Homo sapiens: one gene and its partners. The protein of the gene in region 7 purifies or fractionates together with the protein of the main gene of each other region. This does not show direct contact. Each region holds a gene or a part of one and is shown on either strand. Other genes may lie near its edges.

Region 1 (4,241 bases), on a different chromosome or scaffold from region 7:
ACTGTTGGTCATATATCTTAGTGTCTATGGTCACTAAATGATGTTGATTGAAGTTTATCTACTCTACTTCAGACACAGTTGAGAATACCTGTCTTCCTTGGAACACTAGGAAGAACGATCAGGAGGCTACACAGCAATCAGTATAATTTGCCAGGTAAAAAGATAACAAGTAATGATTCTTACAACCTGTTCCTTCCATAGTAAAATAATCTCACTTTTCCTCGTTACGTGAAAGAATGTTAATGGCTATGATGAGCACAAGACAAGGCAGGATCTCTTGCAGCCAAAAGAACAGAGAACGTAAAAAACCAAGCTCCTATTTCACAGATCAGGACAAAAAAATAAATAAACAAATCCATCAGTGTAGTTGTCTTCCTACTCAGCTTCATTTAGCTTCCTGAAACGGTCAGCTTTAGGGGAACCTCCGAGAGTTGTTGATTTCCATGCCTAGCCAGGCTTGTTGACTTGGGGAAAGCCACAAACCAAAAAGCCAAATGTAAGCACTTGTACAAAATGAGGGCTTACTTCTAGTACTGGTAGTTTTCTCTGGCACTAAATAAGAGAGAGAAACCCACGTCTGATTCCTTTCAACACATGGTCTGAAGCCTCCCTTTACCAAGGTCTTATCCTAAAGTAGGTAGACTTGAGACACACTGACCCGCCAGATGAGACAAAGTTGCAAATCTCAGGTAGTTGTCACCTCCACTCTGCGGCACCCAACTGCTGCCATAAATTTCCATCATGGGCCCTGTCCAAAAAGGAGCTTATTCTAGGGAGAATATAACCAGCCACGGCTCAAGAGGACAAAGCCTCAAATTTCTCAAGACCAAGAAGCACAAGATGGACTCACTTTCTGCCTGCAGAGAGGCTCCTTCTTGTTCTCTTCGGCCTTTGCATCCTGCTGCGCAGCATCTTTGGGTGTGTTTACTGCTAAAACATCATTGATGGTGGAGCCAACCACCATGATCTTGGCCCCACTGGTCACTTTTATTTCTCTCAATGTTTTATCCTCGGGGACGAGTCCCTTATACATGACTTTCTGCATGGCAGGCGGGAGACCTTGGGAAAAGGTAGAAGGTGGACAGTGAAAGGAAGGAAGGACAGAAAAATGTATGGATACTACACAGCTCTTTGGTAACAGACCAAAAAGTGAATACTGCCTCCACCACCTATTAGCTTTGTGAACTTGGGAGATTTACAACCTCTGAACCTCAGTTTCTAGAACTGTAGAAGATTTATTAGAGTAAGTCCTTCTGTACAGACCTGTTTCAAGGATTAAGAGACCAATGCGGGGCATTTAGTACGGTGGCTAGCATTGAATAATTGTTCAGTAAGTACTAGCTCTCATTCTTTCCAAGTTGTTCCTCAGTCATCTAAATCATTCACATATTAAGTGAGAATCCACAGGCATCAGAGCTACAGAAGCCAATAGGGACAAAACTCCTGTTCTTAATGGAGATTACAAGGCTACATGTAGAAAGCTTTAAAAAAAAAAAAAAGTTCAAGGCCAGGAGTGATGGCTTATGCCTGTAATCCCAGCACTTCGGGAGGCCGAGGTGGGTGGATAAAATAAAAAAAACTAGCCCGGCGGGGTAGCGGGCACCTGTAATCCCAGCTACTCGGGAGGCTGAGGCAGGAGAATCGCTTGAACCTGGGAGGCGGAGGCTGCAGTGAGCCAAGATGGTGCCAGTACACTCCAGCCTGGGCAACAGAGCAAGACTCCGTCTCAAAAAAAAAAAAAAATAGGAAAAAGAAAAGAAATCTCAGATGGCAAAGAGCTATGAACAAGGTAAAATTAAGAAACAGAATCGACTGTGAAGAACCAGCATCAAAGTCAATAGCAGCGTTTCCTAAACTTCACTTAGAAGAATTACCTAAGATATTTGCTAAAAATAAATTCCTGGCTACATCCCAGACCCACTGAATCAGAATCTCCTGGGAAAGGGCCCAGAAGCTGTAAAACAAGCGCCTTAGGTGATTTTTTAATTAGAGATGTTAGAGCAACATCAATGAGAAACTGGGGCCTAAACGTCAGACTTCGGCTTTAATCCCAGCTCTGCAACTTACTAGCTCTATAAACTTGAGTCTCTTTCCCCAGCTGAGTAATGGGCATCCAAGTATCCTTCAGAAGACTGCTGTAAGGATGGGGGGACCTGATGCAAGGAAAGCCACCAGGTGCCTAGTAGGGTGCAAGGGCCATCAGGAGGCGGGGTGGGGAAGACTGGCTGTCAGCGCCACAGGAATTACCTGTAATCGAGTGGATCTTCTGTTTCAGCTCGGAGCCTGTGCTGTCCAGGGGGAACTTCACGTCATGCTTGGTCTTATTCCAGATGATCTTCAAGTCCACCAGCTCCCTGCCCGCGCCGCCGCCCGCGTCTTCGCCGTTGCTGACCGAGGCCTGGGCTGCGGGGTCCCCAGGGGGCTGGGCCGGGGCCGGCTGCAGGCTGCCTCGTGCGGCGCCGGAGTCCTCGGCCGCCGCCCCCGCCGCGGCTTCAGCCTCCAGGCAGTTGACGGGCCGCGCGGGAGCCTCAGTAGCCACAGTCTCGGCCTCCGTGTCCATGCCAGGTTCCTCCATGCCTGCAAGGGGGTTAGGGGGTGGGCGCTCGCCGCGGGCTGGGCTTGGGAACGGACGCTGTCCGGGCGCCGCCGGACCTCCGTTCCCGAGCCGCGGTTCTCCCTCCCGGGCCGGGCCGCATCCCCCAGAGGAGCGACCGCAACCTCAGCCCCGGCCCGGCGCCCGCCACCCCCGCCGCACTCACCATCCGGGGCCCCGGCCGCCGCCATGATGATTGTGTACAACACCCACCGCTCCCGCAGAGGCCGCTGGGAAGAGGCGAGCTGGCTGAGATTGGCCCCCGCAGCAGCCCCTAATCTCTCACAGCCCGGCCGGAAACAGGTGGAGGTTTCTATGGAGACCCGCCTCCTCCGCTCCCAGGTCCGGCCCCTGCCACGCTTTCGCTTTCCCAAGCTGAAGGGGGCGGGTCCGGGAAATAGCCCTTTCTCTGGCCTCTGCCCCCTGGTGGCGAGTGCGGCCGCAGCCGTCCAGGGGGGCGTGGGATTTCGCGCTAGGGGGCCTGTGACTTTAAGGGGCAAGGCTGCGCTGGCTGTGGCGGAGGCCGATTGGCTGGAAGCAGTCCCCGGAAGTGACGCAGGGAGAAGCCCACGTGTGCTATTCCATCCCACATGGCGGCGCTCCTGAGGAGACTGCTGCAGCGCGAGAGGCCTTCGGCGGCCTCTGGCCGCCCCGTAGGACGGCGCGAGGCCAACCTGGGCACTGATGCCGGGGTTGCGGTGCGAGTGCGGTTCGCTCCCAGCCCCACAGGTAACCCTGGCGGACGTGACGCTACAGGCCGAGGCCCCCTGTCCCGTCTCCGCCCCACGAATGTTCCCGAATGAATCCTTTCCGGTGGTGTCAGAGTGGGCGGGCGGAGGAGGGTTAAGGCAGCGCGAGCCCATTTTACAGAGGCGGAAACTGAGGTGCAGGAGCGGAAATAATTCAAATTGCCAGGAGTTTCTTGTGTTTTTTGTGCCATCCCATCTCTTTCGATCTTTTTTTCATGCATTCCATACATGTGCATTGATGACAACCTGTGTAACAGGTGTTGTAGACGCTGGGATACAGTGATCATTGAGAAAGGTAGGGGCCTTGCTCTGTGGAAGTCTGCATTCTAGTGGCTGCCGCAGACACTTATAAAAAATAAGTGTAATTTTAGAGTCACATGTGCCATGCGGGAAGTGAAACAGGATAGGAGACTGGGGATTAAGAAGGACGCTCCAGAAGGCTTTACTGAGCAGGTAACATTTGAGCTGAGATCCAAATGACAAGAAGGAGCACGCTATGTGAAGCCTATAGAAGGAACCTTCTGGAGGCCAGGCGCGGTGGCTCACGCTTGTAATCCCAGCACTTTGGGAGGCAGAGGTGGGTGCATCACTTGAGGTCAAGTGGATCACTTGAGAGCCGTCTGACCAACATGGTGAAGCCCTGTCTCTACTAAAAATACAAAATTATCTGGGCATGGTGGCGCATGCCTGTAATCCCAGCTACTTGGGAGGCTGAGGCAGGAGAATCGCTTGAACGCAGGAGGTGGAGATTGCGGTGAGCCAAGATCGCGCCATTGCACTCCAGCCTGGGCAACAAGAGCGAAACTGTGTCTCAAAAACAAAAAAGAAGGAACCTTCTGGGTAGAGGAAATCGCAGGTACCAAGGCACTGTGCTAGTGCTGTTGGGAGCTTAGCAAGCT
Region 2 (3,500 bases), on a different chromosome or scaffold from region 7:
GACTTTCAGGAACCAGAATCCCCCTACCCAATGGTATAGGCTTGATGAGGCCAAGAGCCCTAAGGTAGCTTGTGAACTTAACAAGTTTCTGAAAATGCTCTGGTAGAAGCTTAACCTGGAAAGTGTGTTTCCAACAAGCTTTTCTGAGAAAGGTGGTAGGTGTTTAACGTGTCGGGGGTAGGGGGATCTTTTTCCATGGTCAAGTTAAGTCTAGAAAATGCTGCAAATGACAGCTCCTGCACACTTTCTTGAAATGCTCTCATTGGCAGCTGGCCAATGAATGTTCCACAGAACCTAGTATGGCTTTTCAAATTGCTCTAAGATCATGTTTCCTAAATATTTGTGTCATGGGCCAACGTGGATACACAGGTAATAGTGAAATTCTACCTTCTAGAGAAATGTTAAAGAAAAGGATAAACAACTGCTTTTCTGAGAAAATCAAACCATGACGTAATTTTAGAGGCCTAACTAGTCATCTGATAATTCTGGTTTAAAACAGCCATGCATGTGTGCACACTCACAGAAGTGTACACATGTACCACCTGGCAAGCAGCTTCCATAAAGGAAAGTCTGATCTAAAAACTCAGTCATATCACATGGCCATTTCTTCTTAGTTAGGACATAAAGATAAACTGTGTGGTGAAATGGCCCAAGGAAGAGGCTTATACCTCTTATGCCTCTCTCAAGAAGCAAAATTAGAAGTGGGCACACACCACTTTTTCCATCCCTGGTGACAACTGTGGTTTTAGTGCACATTCAACAGGGAATAGCCTCTTGAACAAACAAACATTCTTAAGAAAAAATGGAAGACCCACTGGGAAATGATTTTAACTGAACAAATTCTGTACCATGGATGTTAAAGACTGTTCACATTCAGAATAGGTCTCAGGATTGGTAATCCTGTTGGTACAAAAACCCAGAGTACACAGTTCTCTCATTTTAGAAGAAGGCTCATGGCTTGGGGCCAGTGTAAAAAAGCATCCATATAGTTTCTTCCAAATAAGCTTGGGCTGATTAAACTGAAATGCTATACAGAAAGAGTCCTTTAGAAGCCAATACCCCTCATTTTAGTGACAGCGACATCAAAGAAATGCTGATAAATGCCCTAATATTCCAGTTAAAGAAACTTAATTCAGAGGCTATATAGAGGCCTTCAGAAAATAAAAGGCAAAATTATAGCTGAAGTGGCTCAACTGCTAGCATATGAGTACTTCACACTCACAATACTCAAAAGCATGATTCACCAAGCAATGCTCTTTAAGAATGACAATAGGTGACTCTTATATGCTGAATCCAGCCAAGCCTGCCAATGCTTATGGAATGGTCTGTAACTACATGAACATAAATACAACCAAAAAACAACACTGTTCAAACACATTCTCAAGAACCTCATTCAAATACATAATTTGCCAAATATAAAGAAGTCCCACAAATCACTATTAAAAATGCTACATGCATTTCTACTTGACCCTTAAATCCTTCCTGCAACCCAACAAAAATGTAATTCAAATTTCACAAATAACTTACCTTTGATAAGCTGCTGCACTAATGCACTGTTGGGGCCCTTGTCAGTGCTGTGCACGATACAGTTAGCTATCCTCGTTAGGTGTCCCATGTAACCATGCCGTCTTCCTCCCTCAGCCCTGACAAGAGGTAAAGGACAAATACTCAGATTCCTGATAGGATGAAGTGATGAAACACTCGGTAAATACTGCGGACTTTTAAACAATCATTTTAAACCCTGAAGGCACTGAAGAAAATGACGATGGACAGAAAAGAAAAGAAAAACAAAGGAATGGAAGGTGCCAGAATATGACCATGCAGCATGGTCAGGGAGGGGTGTGAAATTGTAAAAGATTATATGGCAGCCTCAGTCAACAGGCCACAGTTTATTCGAATCTCAAAAATCATCACTCACTGTCAATAACACATTATTTTTTAAAAGATCAAATAAACCTTCTCTGATGCCTAATGTTATTGTGATTTTATTTTACATCTTTTTAATGAAACTTTTTCAAACCTTAATCAGATTATAAGGAACTGAGGTAAGAATTCTGCTGGTTCATTTTCTTAAAAGATAGCAAATTTTTATTATATCAATGAATAGAAATAATTATCTACCAATGACATGTCTCAAGTTAAGATATTAGCTGATGTGAGACTTGGCCAAGATAGGAGACAGTCAACTAGTACTTGACCATACACCATTCTGAACACATGCAAACAAACAGTCTTTGTCCTTTTCCCATTTAAGGTCTCATCTTCCCAACCATGATCAATCTTTACACTTAATTCGTATCAGGCCAGGCACAGTGGCTCACGCCTGTAATCCCAACACTTTGGGAGGCCAACACAGGTGGATCACTTGAGGTCAGGAGTTTGAGACCATCCTGGGCAACATGGCAAAACCCCATCTCTACTAAAAATACAAAAATTAGCCAGGCGTGGTGGTGCACACTTGAAATCCTAGCTACTCAGGAGGCTGAGGCAGGAAAATTTCTTGAACCCGGTAGGCAGAGACTGCAGTGAGCCAGGATTGTGCTACTGCACTCCAACCTGGGTGACAAAATAAGACTCCGTCTCAAAAAAAAAAAAATTATATATATATATATATATATATATATATATATATATATAAAATAAGTAAACTCATATTAATCTGATTTCTCTACCTATTTACAAAGTGCCAAGATTTTAAGCTCTATCAAACGAAAGATTTTTGACTGCAGATAGCAGGGAACAAACACTGCAGAGATTTTTGCTTAGAGAGAGAAAAGCCTTTCAGGAGCAATAAGAAAAAAAAAACATCCTATGCTTGAAGGCTTGCTTGGAAAATAAAGTATCTGCTAGAGAATCTTAGAGGGCTTGGGGGTGCCTAAGGGTAAGAAGTACAGGGTTGATTATTTAGGTAGAGACAAGGTCTTGCTTGTCATCCAGGCTGGAGTGCAGTGGTGCAATCACAGCTCATTGCAGCTTCAAACTCCTGGGCTCAGGCAATTCTCTCACTTCGGCCTCTTGAGTAGCTGGGACTATAGGCAAGTACCACCACATCCGGCTAATTTTTTGTAGAGCCAGGATCTCCCTATGTTGTCCAGACTGGTCTCGAACCCCTGGCCTCAACCAATCCTCCCATCTCAGCCTCCCAAAGCAGTGGGATTACAGGCATCTCCCACCGTGCCTGGCCAGAGTCAATCTTCACTGAGTTGCTCAGAGTCTCTTTTAGTTCTTCAGTAAGATCCAGAGAGCCAGGTGTTACCTACAGGCAACTGAGTCACTCTTCTGCACACCCTCAAGTACACAAGTGAAAGAAAACAAAGGCCCATCTCTAAGGTGACCCACAGCTTCAAACTGCTTCAGGCTGTTGTGCAAGGAAACAAGGAAAGTTCTTTCGGGATCCCCCTAGACAGAGGGAATGGTATTCACCAGGCCTCCAGAAAACGGGACTCACCAGGAGAGCAGGGCACAAAGGATATCTGAGCCCTGGCCAGATGAGGAGGCAG
Region 3 (4,300 bases), on a different chromosome or scaffold from region 7:
AATCTCTTTAACAGGCTTTACAATAATGAAGAAGCAATGTTTTCTCATTTATTTAATAAATAGTTATGTGTCATTTAACACACGCCAAATATTGTTCTAAGCCTTTTACAAAATGTTAATTTAATTTTCTCATGGTTATTTCTTTTAATAATACTACATAAAATCTGGCACAGTCCTGAGTGAGTGCTAGCATACCAGGTGGACTGCTGACTGAGGGATGACCTATGCTTTGCAGGCTAAGCATTAGAAAGGATAACAGGATCAACTGGGAGCTTACCTCCCAGGATAAGAGAAATGTTTGTCACATAAAGGCAAAATGAAAGGAGCCAAAGAGGGAAAGCTACATTTGGAAACCAGATCATTAAGGAAATAGAAACTTTAACCAAATTAAAAAACTTTCTTCACAACCTTGAGGCCCTTGCTAAAAGGTGATTTTTTATTAAAAAGGCAATGAAACCAGAAACTTCTGGACAAGTGAATCACAGAAGAAGCTCAATTTCCTGTTTGACAAAAGAGGAAAAAAAAGAGAGGCACTAGAGCCACTGCAGAGACACAGACCTGAAGACATAATTTTACTAGAATGCAGTTCCCATCTTGTAGCCTTTAAGATGAACTTTTAAACGGTTGTGACTGCATTTTGCAATTCTGTACCTTGGGCACTTGCATGTAAACTCGTTACTTCCTTGGTAAACCGGATGATGTTAAAGTAAAAGTGAGTCCCAGATGAGATTAAATTATCATTCTAGTCCCTAAAACATGAGAGAAGTACAAATTTAACAGAAGTATAGCTTTTTAGAACTTGAAAGGATTTAAGTCATCTAACCCAAGATATTAAATAACCTGTCCATGGTCAGGACGCTATTTTGTGGCACAAAACCAACATCACAAAATACCACAAATTTCGCCCATCATCAAGTGATTTTTTTCAAATAATCTTTTTCAGTCTGGGAGAAGAACTTTAGAAAAGTTTCTGGAAGGTCCCAACTTCAATTACAGGAAAACATCAAGCAGGCGTGAGATTGAAATTATAACAATGTTCTCACTTTCAGTTTGACTTAAGGAACTCTAGAGCTGGAAATAGCAGCAGAAATAAAAGGGAAGCAAAACAGGTTAGAGTGTCAGCGTACAAAGCCAGAAAAAGAGTAAGGTATAATGAAAGCAGATCCGTAAATTTTTACCCATTTTGGGAAAACAAAGTGGTCCATTTGTATTACACAAGACAAAAATATATAGGAGACTGCTTTGCATATTGTTTAAGAAAAACCAGTTTTGCTTTAAGACTAAACTACTGTGCCGTACACATACAGGATGAGTCAACATCCTATCACAATGAAGTCACAAAACCTACTCAACTCAGATTTTTCACTGAGTTAGTGTATTACGTCACATTTCATCTTGGCTATTTAACTTTTATTTCTAAAAATCTCCCCATCTCACGGAAGACCTGACAAGCCAAAGCTGGTCCCTTATGCAAACAGGTGGTCTATACTGCGTGCCCCATCTTCTCGGCCACATGACCGGATTCCTCCTAATCTCACTTCTGAAACATTGTTTCCGGTGCCCCAGATGGCTCTACACGTGCCTGAGGTAGCCACTCCCGAAATATAAAGAGCTCTCTGTCACATCTGGCTTCCAACCGGATGATGGCAGAAACCAAGGGAGGGCAGGCAGAGCGGAAACGAGCCAGGAAAAGCGACAAGTCAGGAAGGTAAAGGCTCTGCTGAACGCCCAACTCCTAAATGTCACTCGGTGGAGATGTTCGTGCAGCATCGCCCACGAATGGCTGGGGCGGGCGGCCAGGCGCTGCAGCCGCAAGCCAGGGAGCTGAGCACGCAGCGCGGGCAGGGGAGCGGCCTCTCTGGCGCTGGGGACGCCAGGCGAGCCCATCAGGCCCCACCGCGGCCCCACCAGGGCGACCCCCGCCGGGGGCGGAGAAGGGAAGTGGGTGCCTGGCGGAGGGTTGCGGGCGGGGAAGGCGCGGGCGGGGCCGGGCCTAATCACATGGCGCAGACGGCGCAGGCCGCCCGGCACCTCTTTCTTTCTCTTTTCTAGACCCTCGGCTCCTATCCCGCCCCACCGCAGGGCCCCACACAGCCTGAGCCCGGGCCCCGAAAGGAACGAGGCCTCCTGCGCCTCGCGGAGACACTCACTTTTCACCTGAGGCCACCAGCTCTTTGCCCTCGCTGTTGCCAAACGCGTCCGTCTCCCCGGGGCCGTCCTTGGGGCCGGGCGCCGCCGGGGCAGCGGGTGGCGACACCCCGGGCTGCGGATGCGTGCTCCCCTTGCCCAGCTCCTGCAAGATCTCCGAAGGAGAGCTGGACAGGCCCCGCGCGAGGGGCTCCGCCGGCCAGCCGCCCCCGCCCCACCACGGGTGGAGTCGCGCGGCGGCAGCCGGGCCCGCGGCCGGCCGTCCCCCGCCTCGGGGACGCCGGCACAGGGTGACCAAGGGCTGTGCCCGCCGCAGAGTCGCGCTCACGCCGGCGGGCGACCGCAGGAGCAGGTCCCGCAGCATCCCCGAGCCTCGCAGCCGCATCATGCCGCCGGGTCCGTCAGCGCCCGCTCAACAGGGGAGGATGCTCCGGGCGTGGGCGGCCGGTTTCCTCGGGGAACGCGGTCTGTGGTGGGGCGGTGAGATGACAGAAGAGGAAAGGGCAGCTACTTGGGTGTGGTTCCGGCTCGGACTCCCGCAGCGGATGCGGGTGCTGCTGCTGCTGCTGCTGCTGCTGCTGCTGCTGCTGCTGCTGCTGCGCGCTAGGATTGCCGCGACCGGTTCTCTTCGCTCCGCCTAAGGCTCCGCACTGAGGCTAAAGCGCAGGGGAGGGCTAGAGACCTTCAGCGCTCGCCGACGGCCCGCCCCTTTCGCCCGCTGCGATTGGCTCAAATCCTCGACCTCTCTTTTGATTGGCGATTAGGGCAGTCAAATTTCTCTCGGCTCTGGGTGCGCGGAGAGTAGGGCGGGGGATTGGTGGGGGGCGGGGAGAGGAGTCAAACTGACGTGTGAAGCGGGTGAGCCAGGCCCGGCTGCTCAGTAGCCACTTTCTGCACGCCGTGCCAACTCCGAGGCTAGCCTAGTTGGGTACTAGGGGCTCTGGGTTCTCGCATTTATGAAGCAGTGGGCTCCTCCACTCTGGGAATTCGAGCTGTTGGGGAGACTCATGGGCGAGATCCCCCGCAGCCGAGGGCAGTGAGGTCAGCAGGTTTGGCAGGGCTGAGTCTGGCCGAGCTGTCGGAACTCAGCCGATCCCAGCTCGCATCTGGCCCCCAGGTCAGGGCGTCTGGCGACTCCTCCGAGAGCAGCCCCGGACAAGCTTCATCCCTCTCCCAAATGTAACATTTGCTTGAAACTTTCCATGATTGGCTACTACCCAGACGTGAAGTGTTTTGGAAAAAATGAGCAAAATCCTTTCAGCTATGCGACTTAAGCCATGGGAGGGTGGAGGTGGAGGGAGGGCGACGAGTGGCGAGGCGGGGTGGGGGGGTTGCGGAATCCAGAATACGACAGCTTTCTTTTTTAAAAATTATTTTTTTTAAATGTACACCGATACTTCAAAAATAGTTTTGAATAGCAATGATTCCGTTAACGCTATTTGCTTGAAAGCAAAACTGTAGATACTTTTCTATTTTAAAAACTGCTTCACTGTTTTAAAATAGAAGCGTTGGAATACGGGTTCTCTAAGTTATTTCAGCATCACTTTATCCATTTATCCTTTTGGACCTGTGGAAAAACAGCCAAGAACCTGATAAACTGAGTTATTCCCTGAGGCTACATACACATTACATTCCAGGACAAAAAAATGTTTTTAGACTATTTCCTGAAACAATTAGGTTTAAATGGAGTAGATCCACAGAGTTTAATAAGATGTTTTGGGGGTTGGTGTGTTGTTACTGTGTTGTTGTGTGTGTTCGTTTTGAGAAAGGGTCTCACTCTGTCGCCCAGGCTGAAGTGCAGTGGCGCGATCACGGCTTACTGCAGCCTTGAACTCAGGGGCCCCGGTGATCCTCCCACCTCAGCCAGCACCTGCTTTTTTTTTTTTTTTTTTTTGTATTTTTGGTAGAGACGGGGTTTCGCCAGGTTGCCCAGGCTGGTTTCGAGGGATCTGCACCCCCTGGGCCTCCCAAATTGCTGGGATTACAGGCGTGAGCCACCACGCCCGGCCTAATGAGGTGATTTTTATGAAACTAGAAGGGTGTATGTCAGGTGCATCATTAATTGATAACCGGATTTAGTAATCTAGTGAACTGTAAAATATTTCAATAGATTAATAATTAGGAAATCTGGCTGTACCTACAGGTTATGTGA
Region 4 (3,500 bases), on a different chromosome or scaffold from region 7:
GCCATCACTGGAGACCAGCTCACAAACCCTCAGTGGAGCCAGCTGCGTAAAGTGAGAAGTGACAACATTGTGACGGTGGCTAAGAAAGCACCAGTAGAATAAAGTTCTTGGTTTTTTTTTGGGGGGGGGGGTTGTTTGTTTGTTTGTTGTTGTTTTTTTTTGAGACAGAGTTTTGTTCTTGTTGCTCAAGCTGGAGTGCAGTGGCGTGATCTCGGCTCACTACAACCCCAGCCTCCTGGGTTCAAGCGATTCTCCTGCCTCAGCCTCCTGAGTAGCTGGGATTACAGGCGCGAGCCACCACGCCCAGCTAATTTTTTGTATTTTTAGTAGAGATGGGATTTCATCATGTCGGCCAGGCTGGTCTCAAACTCCTGACCTCAGGTGATCCACCCGCCTCGGTCTCCCAAAATGCAGGGATCACAGGTGTGAGCCACTGTGCCTGGCCGAATAAAGTTTATTTTAAATTCTAGCAGCTAGGCATAGTGGCTCACGCCTGTAATCCCAAAGCTTTGGGAGGTCAAGGTGGGAGGATTGCTTGAGCCCAGGAGTTTGAGACCAGCCTGAGGAACATAGGGAGATCCTGTCTTCCCAATAAAAAAAAAATTCTTTTTTTAATTGGTCAGGCATGGTAGCTCACCCCTGTAATCCCAGCACTTTGGGAGGCCGAAGCGGGCAGTTCACCTGAGGTCAGGAGTTCAAGACCAGCCTGATCAACATGGTGAAACCCCGTCTCTACTAAAAATACAAAATTAGCTGGGCATGGTGGCACATGCCTGTAATCCCAGCTACTCGCGAGGCTGAGGCAGGAGAATCAGAAGGCAGAAACTGCGATGAGCTGAGATTGTGCCATTGTACTCCAGCCTGGGCAACAAGAGTGAAACTCCATCTCAAAAAATAAAAAACTAAAATTAATTAACCGGGTGTGGTAGCACATCCCAACCTACTCAGGAGACTGAAGTGGGAGGACAGCTTGAGCCCAGGAGGTCGAGACTGCAATGATCCCTGATAGCGCAACTGAACTCCAACCTAGACAACAGAGCAAGACCTTGCCTCAAAATTCAAATTCCTAGGCTCAAGTAATCTGACCGTCTCGGATTCCCAAAGTAAAATGTGCATCTTCTATGTGTAAAGTAAACATGGCAAAATGTTAACAGCAAATCTAGGTGAAGGGTATATGAATGTTTACTGAACAACCCTTCTGTAGGCTTACAATTTTTCAAAGAGTTGCAAAAACAATATTTAGAAGTTATGGATTACAAAAAAACAAAGCCTGCCGGGTACAGTGGCTCATGCCTGTAATCCCAGCCCTTTGGGGAGGCCGAGGCAGGCGGATCACAGGAGTTCAAGACCAGGCTTGCCAACATGGTGAAACCCCATCTCCACTAAAAATACAAAAAATTAGCCAGGTGTGGTGGCACGTGCCCATAGTACCAGTTACTCAGGAGGCTGAGGCAGGAGAATCTCTTGAACCCAGGAGGGGGAAGTTGCAGTGACTTGAGATGGCGCCACTGCACTCCAGCCTGGACCACAGAGCAAGACTCTGTCTCAAAAAACAAACAAAAAGAAAAAAACAAAACGAACAGCAGAAAATAGGGAAAGATACAAATAATAATTTAGCACGTATATTCTGCCTCCCAGAATTAGCTGTTGTCACAGTAGTGTCTAGTCTCAAAAAAAAAGTATAGATATCCTCAAAAGAAATTATAGATAACGGGCTGCGCGCGGTGGCTCACGCCTGTAATCCCAGCACTTTGGGAGGCCGAGGCAGGTGGATCACAAGGTCAGGAGATCAAGACCATCCTGGATAACATGGTGAAACCCCGTCTCTACTGAAAATACAAAAAATTAGCTGGGCATGGTGGCGGGCGCCTGTAGTCCCAGCTACTTGGGAGGCTGAGGCAGGAGAATGGCGTGAACTCGGGAGGCAGAGCTTGCAGTGAGCCAAGATCACGCCACTGCACTCCAGCCTGGGCGACAGAGCGAGACTCCGTCTAAAAAAAAAAAAATAAAATAAAATAAAATAAAATAAAAATTAGCCGGGCATAGTGGTGCATGCCTATAATCCCAGCTGCTCGGGAAGCTGAGGCAGGAGAAATGCTGGAACCCGGGAGACGGAGATTGCAGTGAGCCGAGATCGCGCATTTGCACTCCAGCCTGGGCAACAAGAGCAAAACTCCACCTCAAAAAAAAAAAAAAAATTATAGATATCATCCCCTTTGCCACTACCTCCCATTCATAATCCCTTATAGACGTGAAATTATAGAGTACGCCTATCTTCAACTTTACTAAGGGCTGCAAATACTGTCTTCAAAAGCAGCTATACCAGTTTACACTCAACCAACAGTTTTTTTTTCCTCCTCCTAACAGTAACCGGTAGCAGTTTCTTTTTTTTTTTTTTTTTATAAATTTTTTCTTTTTTAATAGAGACAGGGGTCTCACTTTGAGGCCCAGGCTGGTCTTGAACTCCCGGGTTCAAGGACTCAAGTGGCCCTCAAACTCCAAAAGTGCTAAAATTATAGGCATGAGCTACCACGCCTGGCCAGTAGTTTCAAAATTACCATTTTTGCCACATCTTCACCAACATTTGATATCGTCAGACATGAAATTTTTTTTTTGGCCGGGCGCGGTGGCTCACACTTGTAATCCCAGCACTATGGGAGGCCGAGGTGGGCAGATCACGAGGTCAGGAGTTCAAGACCAGCCTGGCCAATATGGTGAAACCCCGTCTCTACAAAAAAATACAAAAATTAGCCAGCCATCGTGGCACCCGCCTGTAGTCCCAGCCCAGGAGGGAGACTGAGGCAGGAGAATCGCTGGAACCCGGGAGGCAGAGGTTTCAGTGAGCCAAGATTACACCACTGCACTCCAGCCTGGGAGACAAGTAAGACTCCCTCTCAGAAAGAAGAACAGAAAAAGAAACAATGCCAGGTGTGGTGGTGCCGACCTATAGTCCTAGCTACTTGGTAAGGCTGAGGCAGGAGGATCACTCAAGTCCAGGAGTTCAAGTCCAGCCTGGGCAATGCAGCAAGACCTTGTTTCAAAAAAAAAGAAGGAAGAAGAAAGAAGGAAGAAGAATGAAGAGAAATAAAACAACCTAGGATCACACAGTAAAAGGTAAAAGAACCTCAGCAAAACAAGAACTTCACTTACAGACTTTCCCTTTTATTACCTCATACAAAATGATGAATAATCAAACCTATATGGCAGCATGTACTAAGAATGATTAGTCCCCATATGAAACCAAATGCTCACAAAAGCACAACATAGTGCTGGGAAATAATTTTTTGTCTTTTAAAAAATGTAAGATGGCCAGGCGCGGTGGCTCACGCCAATAATCCTAGCACTCTGGGGGGCCAAGGCGGGCAGATCACTTAAGGTCAGGAGGTTCGAGGCCAGCCTGACCAACATGGTGAAACCCCGTTTCTACTAAAAATACAAAAATTAGCCAGGCATGGTGGCAGCACCTGTAGTCCCAGCTACCTGGGAGGCTGAGGCAGGAG
Region 5 (3,500 bases), on a different chromosome or scaffold from region 7:
TGAGGGCTTCGAAGACTTCACCGGAGGCATTGCTGAGTGGTATGAGTTGAAGAAGCCCCCTCCCAACCTGTTCAAGATCATCCAGAAAGCTCTGCAAAAAGGCTCTCTCCTTGGCTGCTCCATCGACGTAAGTCCAGGCTGCCTTCCCTAGCCTCACCCCATCTGCTCTTGCTGAAGGGAGGCTCCCACAGTGCCCAAGGGAACCCACTGCTCCTGTGTACAACGTAATGCAGCCCTCGTCCACGTAGGGGCCAAAGGAAAACCTCCCTCCACCCTCTGAAGGTCCGCTGAAAATCAACTGGCAAAAGGAAGACTAATACAAGAAATGGCATACAAATGTATGAATGTGGACAGGGGAGAATCACAAGAGATTTCCCTACCACGCATTGGGATACAGAGGGTTATATTCCCTTCCTCTTAGGGGAAGGGAGATGGGGAGGTGCGGATGATTTTAGGGATGTCGTAAATGATTTTTAGGGGAATTCATTGGGCTTAAAGAACATAAATGGTCTGGGATAAAGTCTGTTGGGCCTGCAGAGCAGACAGTGGTTTGTGACAAGTCTGTCTAGCCATGTTGACAGACTTGTCTTTCTTCCTGCAATATGAGTTCAGTTCATAATAACTCATGGAAAGGACCAGACGTCATTGTTTTCATCTTTGGCAGGTCCAGACTTTAGGCAGGTGAGGGAACTTCAGAGAATAGCTTCCTCCTGTGCTTTGGGGGAGAGTGGATCGAGAGACAGAAGGAAAGGGGAGGTCAGAGAGATCTTGAGGCTTCTTCAGTTTAGCATTTCAAAGTGCCATCTCTTAGAGGTATTGGTTTCTGAGCACCCCAGTGTCTACCATTATTGCTCATCACCTGGAAGCCAAGGGTTGCTAGGCAAAAGTCAAGCTGTCTGGGGTGTAATGGATGGGGTGATGGTGCCTCCAGCCCTTCTGTCTTCAGTCCACTTCCCACTCTTAGCCTGCTCTGAATCACCCCCACCCCTCTGACCACAGGTTCCCTGGGAGCCCCTGCCACCTGCTGCCCCTGCCACCTTCCCCTCCATCTGCAGTGCTGTGCAGCCTTCCCCTGCACTCTTGCAGAGCTAATAGGCCCGTGGGAGACTTCGGAAGGAAGAGGAGGAAAGATTTCCTCATAATAGCCTTGCTGGCAACGCTCACCAGGGGATGGGAGGTGGGCACTGTGCCCAGGAGCCTTGGAGCAAAGGCTGTGCCCAACCTCTGAGCCCTGTCCCATCCAGGTTCTGGTCTCTGCGGGGGACAGAGATAAGAAGCCCTGGCTTTTGGAGCCAAAATCTAGGTCAGACTCCCTAGGCAGGAATTCTCAAAGTTTATCAGCAGAACACGTTGAGGCAGAAGACCCTTTCTGCTCCAGCCCTTCTTCCCAGGCTCAACCTTCATCAGAATAGATAGGGGAAAGGAGAGGCTGTGAGGCGTTCTTAAAACAGAAGCAAATTCTGACTCAGACCGGAATAAACAACCGTCCTAGTATAAACCCTACAGCTGGGCTGGGCCAGACCACGGAGCATGGGCTGGTGGTGGGGCGAGGGTGTGCTCAGTGTCCCTGGGCCACTCAAGGCTGTCTGGGTATCAGCCCTGCGCCATCGAGGACCCCCTCCGGCCCTCTCTCGGCCGTGCGCCCTTTCCCTGCGCCATCGAGGACCCCCTCCAGCCCTCTCTCGGCCGTGCGCCCTTTCCCGCCCTTCCCAGCCTGCAGAAATCCGTGGATGCGCTATTCACACGGGAATGCCTGTGCTCGTTCCGCGAGAGGGTTGCATTCCGCCTTTTCTCTGGTATTCTCGGCGTTCAAGCATTTGAACGGGGTAGGAAAGGTTCTCCAAGTGCAAGAAAGCGCAGCCCTGAGCCTCCCACCCCAGGCCTCGGCCGCTGCGCTAGTGCGTCCGGCGGTCCCGCCCGGCAGTAGGACAGAGGGAGCGAGGGAGTCCGGGAGGAAGGGAGAGCGGGTGCGGCCAGTCTGACGGTTGCTGTGTTTGCAGATCACCAGCGCCGCGGACTCGGAGGCCATCACGTTTCAGAAGCTGGTGAAGGGGCACGCGTACTCGGTCACCGGAGCCGAGGAGGTAACGGCCGGCGCGGATGTGCAGGGGTCCTGCTGTCCTGACACGATGGCCACAGGCACAGTTTGTGGTGATGCCCAGGGGCCCGCGCGGCCCCACGGTGGTCCAGTTTACACTCGGGCCCCGCACTCCTGAAGTTCCGCGCGGGAGGAGAAGGGCGTCCCTTTCGCAGCTCGGGCGCCGGGTGCGCCGCGCTGCCACCTGGTGGCCGCAGTGGCCGGCGCCAGGGGCCCTGGTTTTACTTGTTTTAGATGTTACCCTGTTTTACAGTTACAACCTTACTATTTTGATAAGCTAAAAATAATAAAACAATGCATCTTCATAGTGTTTTATACTCTATAAGGTGCTTTCTCTTTTGATCTCGTAAAAGTATTCGTGCCCATGTTCAAATCTGACTGCCTCTTACCAGCTGTGTGGCCTGGGCCAATTACTGGAACTCTCTGTCCCTTAGTTTCCTCATTTAAAAAATGGAAATAATGATAATATCCATTGGAAGGTCGTGGCGATTCAATCAAGTTAATATATGTAAAGTGCTCAGAGGTGACTCACACATCATATATAAGGAGGTAGCTGTCCTTGCTGTTGTGATCACTGTTGTTATTGAAAATATTATGGGCTGACATGGTGGCTCACACCTGAAATCCCAACACTTTGGGAGACCGAGGTGGGAGGATCACTCGAGCCTAGGAGTTCAAGACCAGCCTGGGCAACGTAGCAAGAACCTGTCTCTACAAAAAAAAGTTAGCTGGGCATGGTGGCATGCCACTGTCGTCCCAGCTACTCGGGAGGCTGAGGTGGGAGGATCACTTGAGCCCAGGAGGTCGAGGCTGTAGTGAGCCATGATCATGCCATTGCACCCCAGCCTCAGCGACAAAGTAAGACCATGTCTCAAAAAAAAAATTATCAAGCAACTCAAGTTCACTGTTAATTACAGAACCCAGTCTAGACCGCAGATCTTCTGCATGTCCAGTGTTCTTTTTTTAACCTTGATTTTTTTAACTACCCCCTCACACACACACGTCTTTTTATTTGAAAATTTTCACGTATACAGAAAAGTTGAAAGACTAACATAATAACTATCCAATTGCCACTCCCCTAGATTCACCGATTGCTAACATTTGCCATGTCTGCTTTATCTATGTGTGCACTTTTTTTGAGCCATATGAAAGTAAGTTGCAGACGTTATGACACTTCCCTCCTCAATACTTCAGCATTTATTCCCTATGAATAAGGACATTCTGTTACATAATTCCTCTACTGTTGCCACACCTAAGAAAATAACATTAATTCAGTAGTGTCATCTATTATAAAGTCTATACTAACATTTTCCCAGTTGCCCAAAATGTCCTTTCTGGCGACCCACCCCAACCCCATCCAGGACTCAATCCAGATTCACTCACTGCATGTGCCTGTTATCAC
Region 6 (3,500 bases), on a different chromosome or scaffold from region 7:
ACACTGGATACTGGAAGTTTATCACAGTGGCCCAAACCACTGATGGCTGTCCAGTTATTGGGTTTGATTTATTCACATAATCATAACACCAACTGGAATTCTTTAAAACTTTTTAAAAAAGTGTAGATAATAGGAAGATGATCCTTACTACTCATCCATGCAGAGCAAATCACATTTACAACAATCATTTTAGAGTTTCTCTTTCTGGACTTTTCTTCATAGGTTCATAGGTTTTTTTTTTTTAGATGGACTTTCGCTCTTGTTGCCCAGGCTGGAATGCAATGGCACGGTCTCGACTCACTGCAACCTCTGCTTCCTGGGTTCAAGAGATTCTCCTGCCTCAGCCTCCTGAGTAGCTGTGATTACAGGTGCGTGTCACCATGTCTGGCTAATTAGAGACGGGATTTCACCATGTTGGCCAAGCTGGTCTCAAACTCCTGACCCCGTGATCCACCCGCCTCGGCCTCCCAAAGTGCTGGGGTTACAGGCGTGAGCCACCGTGCCGGGCCCTTCATAGGTATGTTTTACATATCATCACAGCATACATATAATTTCCATCCTGTGTTTTTTCCTCATCATACATTTTCCCACATTGCCACATGGCCTCATCAACACCAACTTAATTCTTTCTTGAGACGGAGTTTCTCTCATCACCCACGCTGGACTGCAATGGCATGATCTCAGCTCAGTGTAACCTGTGCCTCCTGGGTTCAAGTGATTCTCCTGCCTCAGCCTCCCAAGTAGCTGGGATTACAGGCACCTGCCACCATGCCTGGGTAATTTTTGTATTTTTAGTAGAGACGGGGTTTCACCATGTTGGCCAGGCTGGTCTCGAACTCCCAACCTCAGGTGATCCACCTGCCTCGGCCTCCCAAAGTGCTGGGATTACAGGCGTGTGCCACTGCGCCCAACCAACTAACTTAATTCTTGTATGATCTGCCATAATTTAACTACTAACTGAAGGACATTTAGCTTTTTTTTTTTTTTTTTTTCTGAGACGTAGTCTCACTGTGTTGCCCAGGCTGGAGTCAGTGGTGCAATCTCAGCTCACTGCAACCTCTGCTTCCTGAGGTCAAGCGATTCTCCTGCCTCAGCCTCCTGAGTAGCTGGGACTACAGGTGCGTGCCACCATGCCTAGCTAATTTTTGTATATTTTCTAGAGATGGGGTTTCACCATATTGGCCAGGCTAGTCTCAAACTCCTGACCTCATGATATGCCCACCTCACCCTCCCAATGTGCTGGGATTACAGGCATGAGCCACCGCGCCCGGCCCATTTCGCTTTTAAGTGTTTACAATTAGGCAGTCCTGGTGGCTCTCACCTGTAATCCAACACTTTGGAAGGCTGAGGCAGAAGGATCACCTAAGGCAGATTGAGACCAGCCGGCACAACATAGTGAGACCTCCCTCTCTACAAATAATAATTAAAAAAAAAAATTAGCAAGGTGTGGTGGTGTACACCTGTAGTCTCACTCCTCAGAAGGATGGGGTGGGAGATTACTTAAGCCTAGAAGATCCAAGCTGCAGTGAGCTAAGTCACACCATTGCACTCCACCCTGGGTGACAGAATAAAACTCCGTATTAAAAAAAAAAGTTTTCATAATTATAAGTTAGGCTGTGATGTTTTCTTTCTTTTTTAACGAGACAGGGTCGGCCGGGCATGGTGACTCATGCCTGTAATCCCAGCACTTTGGGAGGCCGAGGCAGGCGGATCACGAGGTTAAGAGATCGAGACCATCCTAAGCAGTATGATGAAACCCCCGTCTCTACTAAAAATACAAAAATTAGCTGGGCGTGGTTGTGCGCGCCTGTAGTCCCAGCTACTCAGGAGGCTGAGGCAGGTGAATCGCTTGAACCTGGGAGGCAGAGGTTGCAGTGAGCCGAGATAGCACCACTGCACTCCAGCCTGGCGACAGAGGAAGACTCTGCCTCAAAAAAAAAAAAAAAGAAAAAAAAAAAAGAAAAGAAAAAAGAGACAGGGTCTCGGCCAGGCACAGTGGCCTGTAATCCCAGCACTTTGGGAGGCCAAAGGTGGGTGGATCACCTGAGCACGGGCGTTCAAGACCAGCCTGACCAACAGGGAGAAACCCTGTCTCTATTAAAATACAAAATTAGCCAGGCGTGATGGCACATGCCTGTAATCCCAGTTACTCTGGAGGCTGAGACAGGAGAATCACTTGAACCCAGGAGGCAGAGATTGTGGTGAGCCGAGATCACACCATTGCACTCCAGCCTGGGCAACAAGAATGAAAATCCGTCTCAAACAAACAAACAAACAAAAAAGACAGGGTCTTAGCCTGGCACCCAGACTGGAATGCAGTGGTACAATCACAGCTCACTGCAACCTTGAACTCGTGGGCTCAAGCGATCCTCCCACCTGAGCTTTCCAAAGTGCTGGGATTAATTACAACCACCGTGCCTGGACTGGATATGATGTTTTCTGTTTTGGATAATCTCCTTAGGATAAATTTCCAGATATGTAGAGGCAATAGGTAACACAAATTTTATAGCCCTTGATGAGTACGAATAACTTTATAGAAGTCTGTGCTTCATAATACAAAGTTTAAGCAACCTTCTAAGAAGTGGGCATAAACAGAGTCTCATTTAACTAGATTTCTATTTACTAATGAGAGGAACCGTCTTTTCTCTAGGTTTGCTTATTGATTTCTTCTTCTGTAAAGTGTTGTTCATCTCCTCTGACTATTTACTCTAGGGGCTTAAGTATTTCTTACCAAGTGTATTTTTCTATTTACAATCCTAACATTTACATTTCTTTAAAAAAGTTTTAAAAACACTACGATGTTAACAGTAGTGTGACTGATTTTGTTCAATTTCTTTGTAACTGTGGTTGTAAGACTTTTTATTTTGAGATTTGTTAAAAAAGGAGAAGCCTAATACATGCATACACATATGCCTAGAAATGTATGCAGTCGTAGATACACGGCTGAATTATGCAGTCGCAGATACACGGTCGAATTAATCAATCTCTGTAAGGCAAGATTACAGGTGACTACTGTTCTTTGGTTAAACTATCTTTCCTCGTTTTCCATGATTCATGTTTCTTACTTGTATAATAAAAGTTACAAAAAGTTACCAAAGAAGACCACATTCCAAGAATACTTGAACAGATGTAAAACAATTAAATGTCTCATCTAGGAACCAATCTTTCATTGGCCTATTTTCAATCCACTTCTTTTTGCCACAATTTAATTATGGCTTCATTCCCATGTTTATTCTAATTTTCATATAACAGAGATTCATCTCCAGAAGGAAAAAATTGGCAGTCTTGCAGAATTTCTAAAAATTCTGAAATAATATCTGAGCTTAGACTTACTTGTTTAAAGGCCACTACTGCTCTAAATGGAAATCTGGAGCACCACAAAATGCTCTTATCCATCAGGCTGGTGGCGCTGTGTCTGGTACACGTATATTTTTGTTTTGGTTGAAATGTGTTAGAGGACGGTCTTCGGCAACTAAAGGGATACCACAAAGAAACATACT
Region 7 (3,500 bases):
TAGAGACAAGTTTGGTTCCGGCCAGCTCCATCCTGTATAAAAGTGCAGGAAGTCAAAATGCTTGCAGGAAGGGAAAGTTCAGTTGATGGCAATAACATCTTTGTGCCCTTATTAGTCATCAGCGCCCAGATAAGGCAGATAGGGCAGACCTATCTCCATGAATTAATCTTTAGAAGTAGGATGTGGGAAATGATATAAAGGGAGCCTTCCGCCCTATAGAACAGAAGTAAGACAACAGTTGGATTCTGAAAGCCAGACAAGGCCCCAGGACTCCGAGACTGATTCAAACCTCACACACTCAGTGGTGGAGGCCAGACACACACTGTTCAACTACCAACTACTGTTGTCTGCATAGACCCACAAGCACCTCAGGATAAGGACTTGAACCAGGTGGCAAGCAGGTGTACACAGAACACTGTCAGGCAAAAGGCTACTCAGAAACTATTTTATGTCCTGCTTTTCATCTTTTGTTCAAAATCTAAGATCCTTACAAGTACAGAGAACAATTAACTTCCTTCTAGAATGAGGACAAAAGTATGAAGACAGTCATTTAAATACGAATAAAAGGAACACTAATATTCTTCAGATTCCAGACAGCAAAAAGCACCATTGAAGAGGTCATTTTAGTTGTAATATGGGTCAGTTCACGATGATTCTGAGATACCTTTGAAACCTAAGACCATATTGAATGCAGTTTTAAGTATATTTTGTTGTGCAATAATTCCTTAAAGATTGCTAATCTAAATACATAAGTAGGTTAACAGGAGCCTCATTTTCAATAATGTATAAATGACTTTTCCCCATTGTTTTATATAAATACAAAACCTACGGAATCCATAAACTCAAAAGGATGAGGATTCTAACTTATCCAAAAAAAGCTCTGATAATTTCATGAGTAGATCCAGAAGAGGCTGCCAAGAGACGCTAGAGAAGCAGAAGATCTTCGCCAGCCTTCCGAAGCAAGGTCGTCAGCCATACTCTCCTCAAAGCATCACTGGGTACCATCCTCAGGAAAAGAATACTGGGCTTCATGAGACATTGGTTTGATAAAACACCTGAGTTACTGTGAGGACATTTGAAGGTGAAATGAGGATTCAAAGAGTAAGTGGAGAAAAGGACCAGAGTTGACTGTATGGGACTTAATTGTCAAACTGTCTGATAAATATGTAAAATTATGAAAGAATATCTGATTTACAGTAAGACTGTGTAATAACATTTATTAAACACAACACGTGCCAGGCATTAATCTAGGCAGTGGTGGACAGAGGATAGATGGTCCTCGCCCTCATGATCTCTGCACTCTTGGGGACTTAAAACAACTAACAGGTAAACAATCAGTCATTTCAGGTGGTGGTAAGTGCTATGAAGAGAATAAACCAGGATGATGTGATTACAGCTGGTGGGAAGAAAGGGGAACTACTTTAGATGGGTGGTCAGAAAAGGCCTCTCAGGAGGTAACTTCAGTACGGAGAGCCATGCGATGAGGAGTCAGTCATGCAAAAATTCAGAAGATGTTTCAGGCTGGGTATATAGCAAGTACAAGGGCTGCCAGAGGAAGGAGAGAGGCACCTGGGAGGAAACAGAGAAGCCAGTGTGGTGATGGAAGCAGCTTAGGGAGGAAAAGGGAGAGTGAGGTAAGATGAGGTCAGAGAGGCAGGCAGGAGTCAGTGATGCAGGGCCACATAGGAATTTAGACTTTAGGCCCGGTGCAGTGGCTCACACCTGTTATCCCAGCACTTTAGAAGGCAGAGGCAGGAGGACTGCTTGAGGCCAGGAGTTTGAGACCAGTCTGGGCAACACAGCAAGACCCTGGCTCTACAAAAAATATAAAAATTAGCTGGGCATGGTAGTGCATGCCCGTAGTCCCAGCTACTTAAGAGGCTGAGGTGGGAGGATTGTTTGTGCCCAGAAGTTCGAGGCTGCAGTGAGCTATGACTGCACCACTGCAATCTAGCCTAGGCAAGAAGAGTGAGAACTTGTCTCCAAAAAAAAAAAAAAGAAGTTTTTATTAACTGCCATCTTTATACTGCTAACTATAGTACAAAAGACAACCATAATCCGTGCTTAATTGAAAAAGTCCCAAACAAGAAACCACACTACTCAAAATGTGTCATGTGTCTCTATGCTAATTAGAATGTAAAATGAATCCTTAAGATCGAAGCAAAGACAGTGGCTGGTCAAGTTAAGGCCATGCAACAGTCTTTAAGCAGCAGCCAACTTCATGCCTTCATGTGGGCAAACATGTTACTCTACTCACCCCAAGCAGAACCCTTTTCATTAAAACCCTAAAGAATCATTTACTTTCCTGGTTCCATGCACAGTTGCTCTGAAACGACAATTCTGATAATTCTGTGGCTAACAATGGAAATTGTTTTGCTTTCAGTGAAGCAATGACATATTTATTCTCACACCTGTAATCCCACCCCTTTGGGAGGCTGAAGTGGGCGGATCACTTGAGGTCAAGAGTTCAAGATCAGCCTGGCCAACATGGTGAAATCCCGTCTCTACTAGAAATACAAAAATTAGCCGGGCGTGGTGGTGGGTGCCTGTAAACCCAGCTACTTGGGAGGCTGAGACAGGGGAATCTCTTGAACTCAGGAGAAGGAGGTTGCAGTGGGCCGAGATCGCGCCACTGCACTCCAGCCTGGGTGACAGAGCAAGACTCCAACTCAAAAAAAAAAAAAAAATTATTCTTCCCCTACCTTTCATCATAGTTTCTTCTTTCACTTGCCTGTGGTTTTGGCCAAATGTCACTTTTCTTAGAGTAAATGATTTTTTTTTTTTTTTTTTGAGATGGAGTCTTGCTCTGTCACCCAGGCTAGAGTGCGGTGGCACAATCTCAGCTCACTGCAACCTCCACCTCCTGGGTTCAAGTGATTCTCCCACCTCAGCCTCCCGAGTAGCTGGGACTACAGGCACGCACCACCATGCCCGGCCAATTTTTGTATTTTAGGGTTTCGCCATGCTGGCCAGGCTGGTCCTGAACTCCTGACCTCGTGATCTGTCCACCTCGGCCTCCCAAAGTGCTAGGATTACAGGCGTGAGCCACCGCGCCCGGCCATGAATTATTTTTAAAAGAGCAGCTTATGCTTCTGTGAAGAACAGTGTGTCCACCACACTATAATGATGTTTAAATAAAATCAAGAAAGTGATAAGAACAGTGTCCTGGCAAAATAAAAAATAAAAACAGAGTCCCACAGATACCTGGAACAAATACAATGAAATGTTAAAGACGATGCTACTATATAAAAGAGCATTTCAAAGATGCCTGAAAAATTCCACTATAAATCTAAATCATGTTGTAAATGCTATATACAATCCTTTGACCTGAGTGAGATTGGTGGGGGTTAACCACTATTTATTTTGCCAACTATGGCAGCAATCTGTAATCTTTTTTAGGTTAGAGCTCTTTCCACAAAAATGAAGATATTATACACAAAGTTTTACATGTAAATTAAGGAGTTCCATGATGTCACTGGCATCCCCGAATGTCACCTGCA

The links.
Region 1: the proteins of GNS (region 7) and UBFD1 fractionate together in Homo sapiens (co-fractionation; one large-scale study listed by BioGRID). This does not show direct contact.
Region 2: the proteins of GNS (region 7) and PPP6R3 fractionate together in Homo sapiens (co-fractionation; one large-scale study listed by BioGRID). This does not show direct contact.
Region 3: the proteins of GNS (region 7) and GLS fractionate together in Homo sapiens (co-fractionation; one large-scale study listed by BioGRID). This does not show direct contact.
Region 4: the proteins of GNS (region 7) and GAPVD1 fractionate together in Homo sapiens (co-fractionation; one large-scale study listed by BioGRID). This does not show direct contact.
Region 5: the proteins of GNS (region 7) and CAPN2 purify together in Homo sapiens (affinity purification with mass spectrometry; one large-scale study listed by BioGRID and IntAct). This does not show direct contact.
Region 6: the proteins of GNS (region 7) and CAD fractionate together in Homo sapiens (co-fractionation; one large-scale study listed by BioGRID). This does not show direct contact.

The regions. Positions count from the first base shown.
Region 1 is NC_000016.10:23,556,286-23,560,526, reverse strand, and holds the start of UBFD1 (ubiquitin domain-containing protein UBFD1), read right to left. Parts: upstream 2,801-4,241; 5' UTR 2,785-2,800; coding exon 2,760-2,784; intron 2,578-2,759; coding exon 2,248-2,577; intron 1,060-2,247; coding exon 851-1,059; intron 749-850; exon of another isoform or gene 659-748; intron 1-658. Other genes in the region: EARS2 (nondiscriminating glutamyl-tRNA synthetase EARS2, mitochondrial), read left to right, coding at 3,184-3,322. UniProt on the Homo sapiens protein: May play a role as NF-kappa-B regulator.
Region 2 is NC_000011.10:68,572,252-68,575,751, reverse strand, and holds part of PPP6R3 (serine/threonine-protein phosphatase 6 regulatory subunit 3), read right to left. Parts: intron 1,644-3,500; coding exon 1,528-1,643; intron 1-1,527.
Region 3 is NC_000002.12:190,879,321-190,883,620, reverse strand, and holds the start of GLS (glutaminase kidney isoform, mitochondrial isoform 1 precursor), read right to left. Parts: upstream 2,801-4,300; 5' UTR 2,537-2,800; coding exon 2,151-2,536; exon of another isoform or gene 2,053-2,150; intron 1,709-2,052; exon of another isoform or gene 1,633-1,708; intron 1-1,632. UniProt on the Homo sapiens protein: Catalyzes the first reaction in the primary pathway for the renal catabolism of glutamine. Plays a role in maintaining acid-base homeostasis. Regulates the levels of the neurotransmitter glutamate, the main excitatory neurotransmitter in the brain.
Region 4 is NC_000009.12:125,264,826-125,268,325, reverse strand, and holds part of GAPVD1 (GTPase-activating protein and VPS9 domain-containing protein 1), read right to left. Parts: intron 1-3,500. UniProt on the Homo sapiens protein: Acts both as a GTPase-activating protein (GAP) and a guanine nucleotide exchange factor (GEF), and participates in various processes such as endocytosis, insulin receptor internalization or LC2A4/GLUT4 trafficking.
Region 5 is NC_000001.11:223,747,039-223,750,538, forward strand, and holds part of CAPN2 (calpain-2 catalytic subunit), read left to right. Parts: coding exon 1-127; intron 128-2,000; coding exon 2,001-2,084; intron 2,085-3,500. UniProt on the Homo sapiens protein: Calcium-regulated non-lysosomal thiol-protease which catalyzes limited proteolysis of substrates involved in cytoskeletal remodeling and signal transduction. Proteolytically cleaves MYOC at 'Arg-226'.
Region 6 is NC_000002.12:27,227,369-27,230,868, reverse strand, and holds part of CAD (multifunctional protein CAD), read right to left. Parts: intron 1-3,500. UniProt on the Homo sapiens protein: Multifunctional protein that encodes the first 3 enzymatic activities of the de novo pyrimidine pathway: carbamoylphosphate synthetase (CPSase; EC 6.3.5.5), aspartate transcarbamylase (ATCase; EC 2.1.3.2) and dihydroorotase (DHOase; EC 3.5.2.3).
Region 7 is NC_000012.12:64,752,907-64,756,406, forward strand, and holds part of GNS (N-acetylglucosamine-6-sulfatase precursor), read right to left. Parts: intron 1-3,500. UniProt on the Homo sapiens protein: Hydrolyzes 6-sulfate groups in N-acetyl-d-glucosaminide units of heparin sulfate and keratan sulfate.